3 linked regions of the Homo sapiens genome follow. The protein of the gene in region 3 interacts with the protein of the main gene of each other region in a pairwise test. Each region holds a gene or a part of one and is shown on either strand. Other genes may lie near its edges.

Region 1 (3,654 bases), on a different chromosome or scaffold from region 3:
CCTAGCTAAAATTTGTATTTTTAGTAGAGACGGGGTTTCACCATGTTGCCCAGGCTGGTCTCAAACTCCTGGCCTCCAGTGCCTGCCTTGGCCTACCAAAGTGCTGGGATTACAAGCATGAGTCACCACGCCTGGCCAATTTTTACATTTAAAATGGTTGAAAAATATATTAAAAGAATGTGAGACATTAAAAATGTATGAAATTCAAATTTCAGAGTCCATAAGTGAAGTTTTAGTGGAGCACAACCACATTACTTGGTTAATATGTTGCCTATGGATTCCTTGGTGCTACAATGGCAGAGTGGAGTAGTCACAGCAGAGAGTCCTTATGATCCAACAAAGCCAAAAATATTGCTGCCCTGCCTTTTATAGAAAAGTTTAGACAGATGGTTCACTTCTCCACAGATTGTACATAAGACAGAAAACAATAAATGATACCTTTGAAATGTTGAAAGAATATAACTGCCAATCTAAAATTTCAAACTTACCAAAAATATCCTCCCAAAATGAAGGCCAAATGAAGATATTTTTAGAAAAAAAAAAGAGAAGAGGCTGTGCGTGGTGGCTATTGCTTGTAATCCCAGCGCTTTGGGAGGCCGAGGTGGGTGGATCACCTGAGATCAAGAGATCCAGACCAACCTAGCCAACATGGTGAAACCCCATCTCTACTGAAAATACAAAAATTAGCTGGGCATGGTGGTGCATGCCTGTAATCCCAGCTACTGAAGAGGCTGAGCGAGTAGAATCGCTTGAACCTGGGAGGCAGAGTTTGCAGTGAGCCGAGATCACGCCATTGCACTCCAGCCTGGGCGACGAGAGTGAAACTCAGTCTCAAAAAAATAAAAAATTAACAATATACTACCTTAAAAATAAAGACAAAAAGTACAAGAATACACAGAAAGTGAAAGTTAGCAGATGAAAAAAGATATACTATACAAATAACAACCAAAAGAAAGATGCTGTAGTAATATTAGTATCAGACAAAACAGATTTTAAGGCAAAAACTTTTAAGAAATGAGATACTTCATAACGACAAAAGCCAATTTACCATACAGATAACAATTATAACTTTGTATTTACATAATAACACAGCTTCAAATACAGAAAGAAAAAAATTAAATGAACTAAATAGGAAGCAAATGTATAGTCTCACTAGCAGACTTTAAAAAATCTTTCTCAATTGATAGAATAAGCTGTAAGTATACAGATTTTAACATAATTAACAAACTTAATCTCCTGACACATCTAGAAATTGTACTCAATACTCAATACCTACCTATAGGCTGTACATTTTTTCAAGAGCACAAAATGTTTACAAAATTCTGCAAAGACTGACATAATTCAGAGCATCCTGTCTGACCATAGTAGAATTAAAGTCAACAAGATTGCTAGAAAATTCCCAAATGGCACAAAATTAAGAAAAACATTTAAAAATAACCCAAGGATAAAAGATATCACAATAGAAATTATAAAATATTTTCCACTCAAAAATTATGAAGATGCTACATAAAAAAGTGTGATATAGTTCTGATAGCCCTAAACAATTAGAAAAGAAGAACAGCTGAAAATCAACGATCTAAGTACCTAATTCAAGAGGTTAGAAAAGATCCACAAATTAAGCTCTAAGAATGGAATAAAATAATAAAGAACAGAAAGTAATAAAACTCAAACATACAAGAAAAAGGACTAAAAACAGTAATGTTTTTAAAAGCCAAGTAATGTCAGGCATGGTGACTCACACCTGAAATCCCAGCAATTTGGGAGGACGAGGTGGGAGGATAGCTTGAGCCCAGGAGTTCGAGAACAGCTTGGTCAACATAGTGAGACCCCTTCCTCTACAAAAAATAAAAATCTTAGGTGTGGTGGTGTGTGCCTCTACTCCCAGCTATGTAGGAGGATGAGGCAGGAGGATCACTTGAGCCCAGGAGTTTGAGACTGCAGTGAGCTATGATCACACCACTGCATTCCAGCCTGGGTGATAGAATGAGACCCTGTCTCAAAGAAAAAAAAGAGTCAAGTAAGATTGATAAACTCTAGCAAGACTGAGTAAGACAAAATAAAGAAAACACAAAAAACCAGTATCAGGAATAAGAAGTGGCACATCACTTCAGATCCATACAAACATTTAAATGATAAACCGATAGTATGCCAATAAATTTTAAAATTAGATTAAACGGAACAATCCCTAAACATAATTTGCTAAACTGAAACAAAAAGAAAAAGGAAATATGAACAGTCCTAAGTACTAAAGGCATAGAGGCTATAATTAAACACTTTTCCCAATAAAAGCTTCAGGCCAAGATGGCTTCCCTGGTGAATTCCACTACCATAAAAAATAACTTTCCCTCTCTCACAATTTTTTCTTCCCTCACCATAAGCTAATGATCTTGCCTCACATTTTAGAAACTATGGCAGCTATCATAATAGTGGCCTCAATCTTCCTGCCCTCAACTGACATGCAGGTGCACCCATCTTCTCCACCTTTCTCAGTATTACAACACAGGAGGTGACCTCTGTACCTATTCAAGGTAAATCCCCCTTTCCTTTCTAGATTTTATCTCCTTTAACCCTGTCAAACACTTTAGTCCTTCGTCTTTGTCTTGCAACATCAATGTCTCTCTCTCCATTAAGGCAATCCTATCAGCACTCAAACATGTCATAGCAGCTCCCATTTCAAAAATAAAACAAGTATTTTTTCTTGACTCCATTCTTTCCTTTAGCCACTGCTCCATTTCTCTTTCCCTCTTCGTAGGGGAAAAAAAATCCCTCTCTAAAAAGTTATCTAAAACTATCTCTAATGTCTACTTTTCACTCACTCTTTTAAGTATAAATAATATCTGATATATAAAAATACGTAATTCATGTGTGGATTGTTCATGGCATCATAATAAAATGAATGCTTAAATGAACCAGAATCTATTTCTTTCCATCTCCACTACCATCACCCTAATCAAAGTTACTATCATCTCCTGGATAGACTATTGTAACAACCTTTTAACTTACTGCCTGCTTTATGCCTCAAGTTCAATCTCTATAAACAGGGTTATTTTCTAAAAACCCTGCAGTAGAATCTCTCCATGCTTTGGAACTCACTTAGATCATCTACAAAGCCCTGCACAGGCAGGCTGCTACATCTCTAATCTTATTCTGTACCAGTTTCCCCTCACTTTAGTCACAGCAGCTTCCTTTTGATTTCCAGAACACATGGCATTCTCTGCTGTATCAGATCCTTTGCATTGTTGTTCCCTTAGCCTGGAATACTTCTCTTTTCCTCTTCCCCTTACTGTTTTCTTCTTCTGACCCTTCAGGTCTCGGCTTAAATGTCACCTCTTCAGAAGCTCCCCTGACCACCCTGTTTGAAGCAGGTGTCCTCATCCCACCCCAGTTACTCTTTCTTATCCTCCAATTTATCTCATAGCTGGGAGGTATGGCAACCACCATTTTAGTTTGTTTTTATTTGTTTGCCAAATTATCTATTTCTCAAAATTTAATCTTCATGAAGGCAGGGACCTGGTCCATTTTATTAGCTGCTATAGCCCTTGTACCTAAGCCAGTTCACAGTATATAGATGTATAATATTGATTAAATACATCAATACTATATTTTGATTCTCAACTGCTTCCTTGTTTGTATTAGCAATTAGTTAAAAACCTG
Region 2 (3,654 bases), on a different chromosome or scaffold from region 3:
CCACTATGCTGAGGTGCAGGAGAAACTGAAATAGAGTCTGTTGTAATGATTTCATCATCTTTTACACCTGATTTAGCCTGAGGAGTTGTTTGGCTTACCTGGAAACCAGATTTTAACAAACTTTGCTTTTTCACATGGTTGTTTTTATTTAAAGAGAATTCTTGCCTTATATTTTTGATCAATTCTGGATGCTGAACATTGGATACTATCTGTCTTTCTGAATCCTTAAGAAGACTTTTTTCCACATTTGGGGAGTTACCCTCTAATTGCTTACTCATGATTAATGACTGAAAGCCATCATTTGTGAGCTCTGCTAAATCTGACTGCTGATTCACTTTCTGCATGGCCAAAGCCTCTAAGGATTCACTCTTATCAAACTTCAAAGTACTACCAACTGAGGCACCCAAAACAGAAAATACTGAAGCCACTTTGTTCACTAATGATGTCTCTTCTGCTTGTTGTGAGCCTTTAGTCATATTTTCAGGATGAACCAAAGTGGTAACTTCTTCAACAGAAGACTGAAGCCAATGGAAACTGGAAAGGTGAACTGATGAATCTTCAGCTAGAGGCTGGTTTTTATCTCTCTCTATAATTTGATCTCTGCTTGAGACATGATTACTAATAGTTTGGGGCTGATTTCTGAGATCTAATGTACATTCAGCGTCTTCAGAACCACACGGCCTTTCTTTGAAAGATCTAAAGTCTCCTTTAAACTTTTGACGATTATAGCCTGAAAAATCTAGTGGCTGATCGCTTTGGTCACAACTTGACTCTTTAAGTACTTGTGAAAAGGTTTCTAAATTTAGATACAATGGTTCCTCACTTCTTGGCAAAGCTAAAGATAAATCAAGAGGGTCATCAATTGGTTCCTCTTCAACATACCAAAATATTTCATCTTCCTTATCAAGTACTTTAAAACTACAGGCAGAAATAATGCTGTCATCCAACGTAATACTTGATAGACCATTTGTCTGTAAATCACAATCCAAATACTCTTGATAAGAATCAGGTATAAATAAATATGCATACTGCCCAGTAGAATCAGTGAGAAGAGAATAGATATATTGACCATCATGAAACATATAATATCCATAATCCCCATCCTCTGATGGCCACCACACTCCATGTTCAAGACATGACAACCATTCCTGGTACTCATAACCAAAACTTGAAAAAACAAAGTTTTCATCCATTCTTAATGATTCTTGATCAACTACGGGGCATGTAGTCTTTTCATGATCTGATGAAGAACTTAAGTCAATGGGTAATTCTTCTAGTGAATTATTAGCCTCATTAATTGGAAGAGGACCAGAGTTTCCATATAATGAGTTAGCTGCCCACACATCACCTCTTAATAAGTAATCTTCATTAAATGCTAACTGATTGAATGATTCATATGGTAAGTCACACCAAATGACACTGTTTGGATTTGTTCTCCACTCCAAGATGTTTGCATTTTGATCTTTTTGGCAAAAATTTATCACTGAGTTTTCTGAGTCAAGCCACAAGCAAGCATCGGCTGATAGAAATCTATTTTGATTTAACATATAATAAACTGGCTGAAGTTTTCTGGAATTTTTAGACAAATCTTTTATGTCAGAGTCCCATTCAAAACAGAAAGGACTGTTCATCTCTTCAAAAGCCTGATAGTTGTTTGATTTATTGAGAATGTTGGTATTTAGTACAGGTGAATTTAACTTGTTTGAATTTTCATGTAGTTTTGCCTCAAGAACATGGTTTGGCATTTGCCTCTTAGCCATAGATTTCTCCAAAAAACCTAGCTGAGCACTTGGAGCACAGTGAAGTACAATGTTCTCAGAGGAGGGGTGATGCTTTTCACTTTGCTGGTTTTTCTCTGTAGGGGAACAATAATGATTATCATCCCCAGCATCAGATAATGGTATGTTTTCTTTAGGTAATAAGGAGGCTTCTATGAAGCTAGAAGTTTCATGTTTTTCAACATGGTTCTTCGGGTTCTCAGAAGTCACACATGAAGTAGCAGGGACCTCATCCAAGGATAAATGGTTATCTCCATTCAAACTCTTCATGTTGCCTAAAGACATGAACTTTGCTTCCTCTGGTTTATGATCAATCATACCGCTATTTGATAGCAGGTTAAATATTCCAGAGATTAAACCTGGGGTATTATTCTTGTGATGGGAGTCATCATTTTTCAAATTTAATTCTTGACTAGACAAATTTTCAGCAGAAGAAAACCTATTAAACAGGCCAGAAAGGAAGCTTCCTTGGGTATTTTTCTTGGAAGTCTTATCTATAACCTCATCTTCATTAATTTCATTAACCAAAGTGGATTTGGAAGTGGTAGAAATACACTCTAATGAAGAGTCTGATGCTACTGAAGATGCTGCTTGTATAAGATTCTTATCTTCTCCTAAAGGATCTGAAGTTATATGTTCTTTGGGCACAACTCCAGGGATGGCTAAGCCATCCCTTTCAAAATTCTGTCCTGCTGTGTGGTCACTTGGATTTAATTCCTCTATATTCCCAAATTTCCCCAGATCATTATTAATATTTGTAACTGAATCAGACTTTATTATATTAAATTTGGCATCTTCAGGACTATTTATTTGGTCATTCTGATTAAATTCCTCTGTACTGTCAAATTTCCCTAGATTATCCTGAGTATTTGGAGCTGAACCAGATTTTATTGAACTAAGTTTGGCATCTTCAGGACAATTTACTTGGTCATTCTTATTAAATTCCTTTATACTGTCAAACTTCTCTAGATCATCATGAATATTTGGAACTGAACTAGATTTTATTGAATTAAGTTTGGCATCTTCAGGACAATTTATCTGGTCATTCTTTTTAAATTCCTCTGTACTGTCAAATTTTCCTAGATCACTATGAATATTTGGAACAGAACTAGATTTTATTGAACTATGTTTGGTATCTTCATGGCAATTTTTTTTGCTCTCCTCATCAGTGGTTACTGCTGAGCCACGTAAACTCTGGTCATTAACAGTAACCTTGCTGTCAGTGAAAGAAAATTTAAACAAAGGAAAAATGCTTCCTTTCTCTTTTAACTCCTGTTGCTTTTCAGAATGACCAAGACTTCTAAAAAATGGAAGATTTAGTTTTCCACTAAAGGAAAAGGAATGACCATCTTTCTTAGAGCCCCTTTCTAAACCATCTTCCTCCACCTGGCGAATTTTCACAGGTTCTGACAAACTTTCCTTTGAACAAGTCTCAGGGGAAGTGAGCAAAAACTGGCTAAATGATTTTCTGAGTGGCTCAAGGAAATCATCATTACCTGTAACTTTGTCCTCCTCTAATGGCTTTGAAAATACCTCTTTATTTGCAGTTCTACTGCCAGCTATACAAGGATGTCCTGGAGTATCTTTGGCACATATTTTTTGTTGATCTGGTAAAAGAGACAGATCTATACAGAGTTTTTCTTCCAATAGACTCTCATCATTTTTACTTGCAGAACTAACTAAGTTTGAAGGTTCACTGGTTACTTGGGAGGACAACAAATTCTCACTTGTGGGCATCTGGAACCAGCCCGTAGTTTCTTCATCACTCCCATTTAAAGCAATGATGCTACTACTGTAATTGTCAAGAGTGCCTTCCCTTTTATTTAACTCCAAACCACACTCAACAAAGCTTTCTTTTCTTGGTGGCTTACTCTGG
Region 3 (3,654 bases):
GGTCTGATGCTAACTCCAGGCAGTTAGTGTCAGAATTGAAGGATCTGCCCTTGACCTGTGGGGTCTGTGCTGTCTCTGAGTAGTTAGTGTCAGAACGGAATTGAATTGACTGGCAGGACCCCCAGTGGGCATCAGAATGCAAAAGGCTACAGGAGAGCCTTAAAGAAAGCCACAGCTGTGGAAGTGAAAGGAAGAGGTGGACTTAAGAGGCATCATGGGAGCAGACGGTACAGAACCCCACTTCAAACCTAGAGGTGACAGAAGGGAGAAGTGTTGAAGATGACACTGAGGATTTGCCCTATAAAACCAAGACACTGTGGTTCTGTTACTGGAAACAGAGAAGCTCATAGGAGGTGCTGATTCTCAGGGACAGAACAGAGAGGGAGAGGAGTGAGGAAGCAAAGAGCTCATTTCTAGAAAACTGGACTTCAAAGTGCTGACTGGGTGTTCAGATAGAACCATCTCACAACCAGCTGGAAATTCAGGTTGGAAGTGAAGCAAGATGTCAGGGGGAAAGGATGGAAGCTTCAGAGTTATCTGCAGAGGGTGGAATTTGCATTTGGCAGAGTAGATAAGATACTGAGAGAGGAAGAAGACCAAGGATAAAAAGTACTTTCAGAAGTACACAGGCAAAGGGGAGAAGTGAGGCGACCGAGAGAGGAGTTCCACAGCAAAGTGTGGGGAGAAGGGTGCAGAACAACAGCCAGACCACTGTTTTCTTGCCATGGCCTGAGACGTGCTCACATGCCTAGATGCCATCACCACGCAAACGACGGGCTCAACCAGGGCCTCTCCTGTAGAGCTTCATAAAGCCTTTCCTATATTAACAGGCACAGAGCTTCAGGGCAGCCTTTGCTGAGGCTCTTCAAAGATTAGTCAAAAGCTTGGTAAGTTTGAGAAATATTGGTTTAAAAATAACAGTTCTGCTGAGCAAACCAGGAGAAGCAGAAGAAAAAGTGGTGATCAGTCAAGAGACTTGCAGTTGAGAGCGGTAGCAACTAATATCACCAACACACAAATACAAGCAACAGATACAGATACCACTTCTTTCAATAGCCTTAAATTCTCTTCCTCCAGATACACATTATCTGTATATCAATGGTATAAATTTACGCTCCTCCCTCTATAAACTAGCCTTTGTATAAAATGCTGAAGACAATTACAAAAAACCATTTATATCAAATACATATTAAGTCAATCAAGTGTCTGGAGAGCTACTCGATGGCCACAATATTCAAATCTCCCCTACTTAACTTTGTTAAGTTCTTCAAAAAGGTAAAAGAAATGAAATCAACATTTGTATTATACATATTTGTATTATACGTGAACCTATATTTACATAAGCCAACAAAAATTTGTGTCTGCCTGGAGGAACGGAGAGGCCTCTGGGCAACCGTCAGGATTATGAAAGGAAAAGCTACAGCCTACCCCAAATACGCTTGTTTCCTTTGCCTCCGGAAGGCTGAAAGAGAAGGCTGGCTGAGAGGCAACTCTGGAAGCCAGAGTTGGAGTTTTATCTCAAAAGACAAGTTTTAGGCCGGGCGCGGTGGCTCATGCCTGTAATCCCAGCACTTTGGGAGGCCAAGACAGGCGGATCACCTGAGGTCAGGAGTTCGAGACCAGCCTGACCAACATGGAGAAACCCCGTCTCTACTAAAAATACAAAATTAGCTCGGCATGGTGGTGCATGCCTGTAATCCCAGCTACTCGGGAGGCTGAGGCAGGAGAATTGCTTGAACCCAGGAGGTGGAGGTTGTGGTGAGCCGAGATCGCACCATTGCACTCCAGCCTGGGCAACAAAAGCAAAATTCCATCTCCAAAAAAAAAAAAAAAAACCCAACAAGTTTTAGTGCATCATTTAAAAAAGCCAACCTTAGATATTATTGCTTTGGCTTCTTCTATAGTCTTCTTTAACACTTGCTTCATCTTCTCATTTGGAGCTATAAAAATAAAAAGGAGAGAGGGAGAAAGAGCTGTCAAATACAAAGCCTCTTCTGAAATACCTCAATCCCCTCTGTCTGAGTCAGGGGGTAAATGAACTGAGAGAGAGTGCGAGTGTGGAATTTAGGGAAGAGAAGCAAGAAACCTGGCTGCCGGAAGTTAGGTGAAGACCTCTTCCCAACAGCAGAGACCTGGAGTGTGCTTTACGCAAAGTGGCAAAGGCTACAAAAAACAGAAATGCATGTCGTTGGGTAAACAGGGCCGGTGAACTTTTTCTGGAAAGGGCCAGAGAGTAAAATTTGAGGCTTTGCAGGCCACACAGTCTTGTTGGGTGGGATAACTCAGCTCTGCCACGTAGCACAAGAGCAGACAATACTTAAATAACTGGGGTAGCTGCGTCTCCTTACAATTTTATTTACAATAGGCAGCTGGCTAAATTTGACCTGTAGCCCATAATTTGGTGACCCCTAGATCAGGAAAAAATAATAACTTGAAAGCTTAGAAGCCAAAAAAAAAAAAAAAAAAAAGAAGAAGATGGAATGCCCAAACCTAGGGAAAATGGGGCAAGTTGAAACCATACATTCCTAGTAAATAACAGTATTAATTAGACATTGAAAATATTAGAAACACAAGATTGTATTATAATAGAAGTGGTTAGGCTGGGCGTAGTGGCTCACGCCTGTAATCCCAGCACTTCGGAAGGCCAAGATGGGTGGATCACCTGAGGTCAGGAGTTCGAGACCAGCCTGGGCAACATGCTGAAACCCTGTCTCTATGAAAAATACAAAAATTAGCCGGGCATGGTAGCAGGCATGTGTAATCCCAGCTACTCTGGAGGCTGAGGCAGGAGAATCACTGGAATCCGGGAGGCAGAGGTTGCAGTGAGCCGAGATTGTGCCACTGCACTCCAACCTGGGTGACAGAGTAAGACTCTGTCTCAAAAAAAAAAAAAAAAAAAAAAAAGGTGGTTAATTTAAGAACATATTACATATTGGTTTAATGATGAATAATGAACTGTTAACTGGTTCTCATATTTTTTTTCCTCATCTTACCACATCTTCTTACGTAAGAAAGCTGTGGAAGACAACCATTTTTCAGGTTAACATTGAAAGGAAAAAATACTAGGAATTCTTACTATCCCTGATATTTAAAAAAATGTATTTTTGAGCTGCTAAAGGCCTTGCAGGAATACTGTTCTTTTACTCCTAACAGTGTTTTAGGGCTGTTCAATTACAGTGTTTTAAATGGCGCTTTTAATGCAGGTTAAAAAGAATAAGCTATCAAAAAGGATTATCATCAATTCCACATGATCAGCCAAACACTGAAAGGAGAGGAATTTCCTCAGTGTTTTGCCGTGTACTGAAGTGCTCTGCCCCAGAGAGAAGCATGTCCTTGATCAGGGAAGTCCATGTGCTGACATGCTTTCCCTTTCCTCTTTCACACAGTCCATCTCGAAAGATCCCCCAACATTTGCGAACAGTAACAAAACACAACTCTGAATACATTGCGGTGAGGACCTGCCAACAATTATTAGGTGGAAACACATGAAATTGCCAATACTCAACCATTTTTGAGCTACAGAAGGGAAAGGGTCATTTCATCTGGTTCGTCGAATACATATAAAAGCAAGCTGCAACTTATTAAAGAGCAAGACAAAAGCTTCCTTTATCTACCTAATTCATCCTAGATTAGAGTTTTACCAAAGGAGCTACA

The links.
Region 1: the proteins of CFAP298 (region 3) and ZNF624 interact in a two-hybrid assay, tested with the Homo sapiens proteins (one large-scale study listed by BioGRID and IntAct).
Region 2: the proteins of CFAP298 (region 3) and UNC13B interact in a two-hybrid assay, tested with the Homo sapiens proteins (one large-scale study listed by BioGRID and IntAct).

The regions. Positions count from the first base shown.
Region 1 is NC_000017.11:16,629,725-16,633,378, forward strand, and holds part of ZNF624 (zinc finger protein 624), read right to left. Parts: intron 1-3,654. UniProt on the Homo sapiens protein: May be involved in transcriptional regulation.
Region 2 is NC_000009.12:35,301,429-35,305,082, reverse strand, and holds part of UNC13B (protein unc-13 homolog B), read right to left. Parts: coding exon 1-3,654. UniProt on the Homo sapiens protein: Plays a role in vesicle maturation during exocytosis as a target of the diacylglycerol second messenger pathway.
Region 3 is NC_000021.9:32,605,777-32,609,430, forward strand, and holds part of CFAP298 (cilia- and flagella-associated protein 298), read right to left. Parts: intron 1,941-3,654; coding exon 1,873-1,940; intron 1-1,872. Other genes in the region: CFAP298-TCP10L (uncharacterized protein LOC110091775), read right to left, coding at 1,873-1,940. UniProt on the Homo sapiens protein: Plays a role in motile cilium function, possibly by acting on outer dynein arm assembly. Seems to be important for initiation rather than maintenance of cilium motility.